Linked DNA regions of Homo sapiens: region 2 is reported to be linked to region 1. Evidence: microRNA targets listed by miRTarBase, many of them from high-throughput screens and not tested one by one. Region 1 holds a microRNA gene; the other region holds the end of a gene's coding sequence.
The links. The annotated mature microRNA hsa-miR-650 reads AGGAGGCAGCGCUCUCAGGAC and lies in region 1 at 1,459-1,479, opposite strand. An mRNA with a match to its seed (bases 2 to 7 or 8) in the 3' UTR can be bound and repressed. Matches are read on the target gene's strand: a 7mer-m8 pairs with bases 2 to 8, a 7mer-A1 pairs with bases 2 to 7 and ends in A, and an 8mer does both.

Region 2: the mRNA of SESN1 is a reported target of hsa-miR-650. Seed matches in the 3' UTR shown: 7mer-m8 at 1,235-1,241.

The regions. Positions count from the first base shown.
Region 1 is chr22:22,820,882-22,824,269 of GRCh38, reverse strand. MIR650 (microRNA 650) reads right to left here and starts at 1,494; the gene lies at 1,399-1,494. It overlaps LOC105372948 (a long non-coding RNA gene), which reads left to right. Exons shown (of 4, transcript XR_938047.2): 4 at 2,634-3,289. It also overlaps IGL and IGLV2-8.
Region 2 is chr6:108,984,902-108,987,901 of GRCh38, reverse strand. SESN1 (sestrin 1) reads left to right here. Exons shown (of 10, transcript NM_014454.3): 10 at 272-3,000. The coding sequence ends at 358. It also overlaps a transcript of ARMC2 not described here. Among named protein-coding and RNA genes, the nearest start is that of ARMC2-AS1, 62 kb to the right of the region's middle.

The sequences.
Region 1 (3,388 bases):
ACTAGTTACTTTGTTTTAAATATAATCTGTATAATCGAAGTTTAAGGAGCCTAAACTATATATGATAATAGCTGTATTTAACAACTGGCTCAGAAAATTTAAATATTGGACCCAGCTAATGTCCGAATGTGTTCTAAATCAATTCTCACCATTAGATTATTAGGGATTCCAGGTACAAAAGTATTGACAGCCATGAAAATTAGAAATGCTCGATGTCCATGAGGAAGGGAGGTGGACTCAGGTTAACTCTTTCCTGTGGAGCCATTTTGGAATCCCCCATCCTATGGGAAGACCGTCCACTTGTGAGGAGTTTCCAGGACAGGGCCTCAGCGATGTGAGGGGAGGAGAATTCTGCGAGAGCACTGAGCCTGTCACTCAAAATCTCCCCAGCTCAGCAACCTGAGGAATTTCGGCAAAGAGCAGGAGCAATAAAAAGAAAAACAGCAGCATCCTCTTTGTTCTTAATCCCTCAAAAACATCTTCAAGTCTTCTTAAAGTGGTCACTTTAAGCTAGGAGGGCCATCTTCATTAGAGCGTGGTGGACACAGAGTGGAACAAGATGCAATTCCTGGAAACTGGAAGCCATCCCCCTGATGGCTTCTGTCCAGATTGATCTGCATAGTGTGACAGATGGGGGATGCATTTAGAATGAGGATGTTCCTGAAAACAGGAGGGACTGCACCAAGCAGTAAACTCCTTGTCCCTACGTCCCTGCATTGAAGAGCTAGGAATAGTTGCACGTTAAGGGACCAGAGCACACAAGCAAAAGGAAGTTGCCACAGTCCTGAACGAGAAATCACGAGCAGGTTTCCTTTTAGACCTCATGGTGGGAAAGGAGAGGAGCTGAGAGAGGAGAATTGTCAAGGCCATCCTGCAGGAAACCCTTATACAGCGTGAGGAAGCATCTGCAGAGCAAGAAGGGGGCCTGAGAGCCCAGGGCAGGTTTTGATCTTACTTCCTCATTGACTTAAAACACTGTGGAAATTGTTGCTGCCTGCATATGAGCTGCAGTAATAATCAGCCTCATCCTCAGCCTGGAGCCCAGAGACGGTCAGGGAGGCCGTGTTGCCAGACTTGGAGCCAGAGAAGCGATCAGGGACCCCTGAGGGCCGCTTACTGACCTCATAAATCATGAGTTTGGGGGCTTTGCCTGGGTGCTGTTGGTACCAGGAGACATAGTTATAACCACCAACGTCACTGCTGGTTCCAGTGCAGGAGATGGTGACTGACTGTCCAGGAGACCCGGACGCGGAGGGAGGCTGAGTCAGGGCAGACTGGGCCCAGGACCCTGGAAAGGGAGAAACACAGTCTAGTGAGTCAGTGCTGGGCCCAGGTGAGCCTGAGGAGCAGGAGACCAAGGATCAGCCCAGAGGTCCCTGTGGCCCCTTCCCTGGAGGCATCACCTGTGCCCTGAGTGAGGAGGGTGAGGAGGAGCAGAGCCCAGGCCATGGTGGTGACGTCCTGAGAGCGCTGCCTCCTGAGACCCCAGCACTGGGCCTGCCCCCAGCCCTGTCTTATCCCCTCTGCCTCAGAGAAGGGCGGGACCTCCATGCAAATCTGCATCCTGAGCTCCTCTTCTCACCCCACCCTCACTTGGGCCTGGGCTTAGAGACTTCTGCTTCCCTTGACAGCGGGGCTCAGCCAAGGAGACTAAAGTCCCTGATTGTCTATTCTGATGACAGGAAGTTGATTTCTTTGCACGTGATTTGCTCAGGAGAGAAAAATCTGCTGAAGCCCCTCACCTGAGTGAGCTCTTGGCCCTCAGTGTCTCTGCTGTGTGGTGCCTGTGTCTCTGTGACCCTCCAGGCCTGGGCACACCTCGAAGTAACCTCTTTCTGGCACTCATTGCCAGGTTCTCTCTATTCTCAGGAAATGGGGCTGCCCAACCCCACTGGAAGCCTCTGCTGGGTGGCGTTGGTCCCTGGTCTGCCCAGCGGCAGCCTCGTCCCATCCCCACTCCCATGCTTTGTCCTGAAGCATCTGCACCATCAAATCCCTGGAGCACATCAGCCACCCCAGGCAGTGCACCCACATCCACACGGGCACATGTGGGTGGGACCCTGTGAAGGGAACAAGGAGCACCAACCAGGGCCACAGTCCTGAGCCTGAGTCCGCTGCTCCCAATCCTGCCCCTCCCACTCATGAGCAGGTGACTTGTCCTTCCCAGCCTCTGGTTCTCAGCCTGATAAATGGAGACCACAGAGTCCGTTCTGCATACAGGTGATCCATGGGGATATGAGCCAGCAGGGAAAAGGGAAAGTTTGCTAACAGGCCTTTCTATGTGCACCAGAGTGATGTTATCTTGAAAGGTTTATTGAAAGATTTACTTCCATTTTACTGTGATTTATGTGTCAGGTCACAGAGATGCACGTTTCCGGCTTTCTTACTTTCCCCCATCTGAGCACATCCTCAGGACAACCTAAAGCTGACCTCTCTCAACCCTTCGACACTGAAGACACACAGACATTCAATAAAGACATTTTTAGTTTTTCCTCCAAATGCGTTTAATCTTTCTTCATCTTTCCCCATTGCCTATGATGCAACTCTTTTAATGTTCCATATTAAAATAACTATTAAGGGATTCAGGTTCTATTTAAATATTGTAACATACACTATCCTGTCTTCCCATCTAGATTGAGCTATAAAACCATGACAAGTGCATGGAGCAGCTATTTGAGCACCAGGAAAGGAAATGGTACGCAGCAGTTTGGGATGGCCCCAGCAGATGAAATACAACAGAGTCAGTGTGAGACTGCTGGATTTCCTCACTGTCCCCTGGCTGGGACTCCAGACAGCCCCAAACCTGAAGGGGCACAAACCTGAAAACAAAAAGAAGTCCAGAAAGCCCTCTTGTTCAGGATCGAACTTGGGAAAGAAAACTTATTTGGCTCAAAGTGAAGGCTCAGTCCCCTGCACAAGCAGGTGGTTCACACCTGTGTTCTCATCTCTCTTATACCAGCGCCTCTCCCTGGGTTCACACTGATGTCCTATGGATGGAGACGGGGCTTCCTGCACCAGGTCACTCCACAGCCCCTGTAACCTGAAGCCCTGCAGACCAGCCTTGTTCAATCACAATGTGATGTGAGCCTCATGGGAATCCCACTGTCTAGTCATCATGTTATAAATACAAAGAGAAGAAGTCAATGAGTTTAAATAATGTATTTTATTTACCTAGCATATCAAAAAGAGTATCATTTTCATATATAATCTAAGTACAATTATTTATGATATATATCATATACTTTGCATGGCTATTGTTATTATTTTTTGAAGAATCTTTATGTGGAGATTGTGTGGCTGATGGAGATGTGAATGGGTTTCCTGTTGACAAGGGTGGGTTGTGGTGGCTTTTTAAGTGTCAACTTTGATAGGCTGGAGGAGGGGTGGA
Region 2 (3,000 bases), not on the chromosome of region 1:
GAACCCAGGAGGTGGAGGTTGTAGTGAGCCAAGATCGTGCCACTGCACCCGAGCCTGGGAAAGAGTGAAAGTGTGCATCAAAAAAAAAAAAAAAAGATAGCTGCTGTTTTGAGAAATTTATAATCTGTTCAACAAACCCAAGGCTAAGTTATGCTGTACTACATAGGAAGTGTAGGAAGTGTACTTATTTTATGTGTTCATTAGATTCACTGAAAAACTGATTGTGAATGCTTGTAACCCTTCCTTATATGATGTTGTATTTTATATTCAGGTTCATGTTAATCTGCTTCTTATAGAAGCTAGGATGCAAGCAGAACTCCTTTATGCTCTGAGAGCCATTACCCGCTATATGACCTGATGCCTTTCCTTCATTAAAGATGATTCTGGAATGATCAGCAGATATAGTCTACAAGGGGGAAGGTACTAAGCCCCAGGACCAATGGTAGACAAAATAATTCAGAAATCCATTGTGCCATGATTCCTTTAGTTTCTGCTATTTTTCTGTGGAAAACCACTGCTGGCACAAGCAGTGACTGTTTGGCAGCTTCAAGTTTAGAGCTGTGAAGACAGGCTGCCATTCACAGTATTTTGCTTTTTGACAGTACAAGATGCTGTGTAACTGTTTTAATACAGCAAATAGTAACTCTCCAAATCCTGTTGCTTTTATGTTAAATAAGATAACAAGAATTGGAGCATGCAAAGAATGGGACTTGGATAATGACTTAAGCTTTATATGTAAAGAATTTTAGAAGATCTTGGTGCTGCTATTCCTGCTGGAGGAATGAATAGATGGCTGTTTCAGTTAAGCTATTAGTAATAAAAGTGAACATTGCTACTATCTGAGCCTACATACATAACTTGTGTGATTTCAAATTAAACTTGCATTATGTGTTAATTTTCTTGCATCTAAAAAAGCATAGAATTCCTACTCACACAGCTCAGCAACAACCATTTTGATGGTAACAGTTAATTTCTTTCATTAGTTTTTTAAATTCAGGGTTCTGGATATTAAATTAAAATGGCATTCTTAAAGATTTTCTTCAAAAAGCAATCCTAAATGAAAGTGTGTAAATTATAAGAAGCTGGCGATCTTTTGATATGCTGTTTCACAGGATCCTGACACTGGAGGGCAGCTGTCTTGTGCATTACTTGTGTTTCCAGCACCAAAGTTGTGGGACATGTTGCTGTAGACTGCTGCGCAGTCCTGGGTGCATTCAGTCTCTCTGCCTCTGCCTGCCTCCTGGTCCCCACTTTAAAGGCTGTGCAGCTCCTTAAATAATAAAGCTGGAAAATATTTTTAGTCGGGTTATCAAATTTGATTTACAAAAACGCTAACTTTGTTTGAAATGCAAACAGGTTTGAAAATATGTATTAAGTACTTTGTATTCTGGAAGCGTGAATTGCTTTTGAAGTCTGTCAGTATTACTGGTATTTTTAAATAAAGAAGAATTTTTCTCCAATTTTATTTGCTGTCTCAATCTCTTAAAAAATCATGACTTCACTATTAGTAATAATTTTGAGTTTCTATCTACTTTCATAAGCCAAGTACATTCACACTTAAATGGCAAAACAACACTTGAAGCCATTTTGAAACATACAAAGAGGAGTGGACTTTCTTTAGAATCTTATCTGAGACCATTTTTATCTTGGAAATGACTGGTATGGCCCTATGCCTGCTCTCTTTTCAACTGTTTTAGAGTTCCAATAGAATTTTAAGAATTACTAAAAAGAAGGATTCATTAGGGAGAGACTACAGAACAAAAAATGACACTCATCAGACAAGTAGAAATAGCTCTAAGTTTAACTGAAGCTGTTGTGATGATAACTCTGTTAGTTACTCCTCAAAACATTTATTGAGCTCAATCTAGTGCCTGCCTACAAATGTATGGGGTAGTGTGGAAGTAGGGGTTGGGAAGGATCAATTTTGAACAGAGGTGGTACCTGTCCTCAAGGATATTTACTCTCATGAGAAGACAAGACTATAACCTTAGCTAGGAATAGAGTATTATTATCTTCAATATGTTTTATATTTAAAGAAACTTACTTATAAGTGCATTACTCATTGAATATGCATCATGCCTTTGTCCTCTTCTGCCTGCTGCTGAGTTCTCTCACCAGAGCAATACAATTGAACCCAAGAAGATAGTTAAAATTTTACTTATCCCATTTCTGCTCTTTGTTCCTCCTCTTGAAAATACAAAATTTCTAGTAGAGATTCTAATCAGCAGTAGAGTGATCACAAAACAAGATCAACTAGAATGCATTTAGTCCACTGGAACTTATAATCACTTAGAAATTGAAATCAAAATTTTAATGAGTTAAAAAATATGTTTATACCTAAAGTAATAAAAGTGCATGTGATACAAAGTTAATGTTTCAATGCCTTCCATTTAGCAGGTGCTTCCTGTTGGAGTGTTTTCTCAAAACTAAACACACAGGATTTCTAATGTTACTATATAATCTTTGAAACCAGTAGTTTCCAAAATAATTAGGGAAGGTACATTACACTGGGGATATCAAAACCTTCCCCAACCAGAGGAAAATTTTCTTCTAAAATAATCATGAGAAGATTTCTGGTTGAGGGTCCCAGGATTCAAGAGTTAAAATCTTGAGTTGTTTTGGCCGTATTTGGGAAAATTTTTTATTAGGCCAAACTTTATCATCTCTAAGAATGAGATTGATTTTGATACAGACCACCAGGAGATAAGTAGATAAGTAAAACTTGTTGGATAAGCACTTTTTATCAATATACTCTGAAATTTTATTAGCATATTCATATATGTGAATATCATACATGAATCAGAAATGTTACTAGCATATTTGTATATGTGAATATCATATATGAATCATCATACTAGTTTTTTGCTAACACTGGTAGATGGGAGTAATGTCAGCAAGATGATGGACTTGGGAACTCCACGTCCTCATTCTCCCAGAGACGCTGAGTTAACAATATATGGGCCAGAATATCTTTGTGAGAACTCTAGAAACCAATTGGGA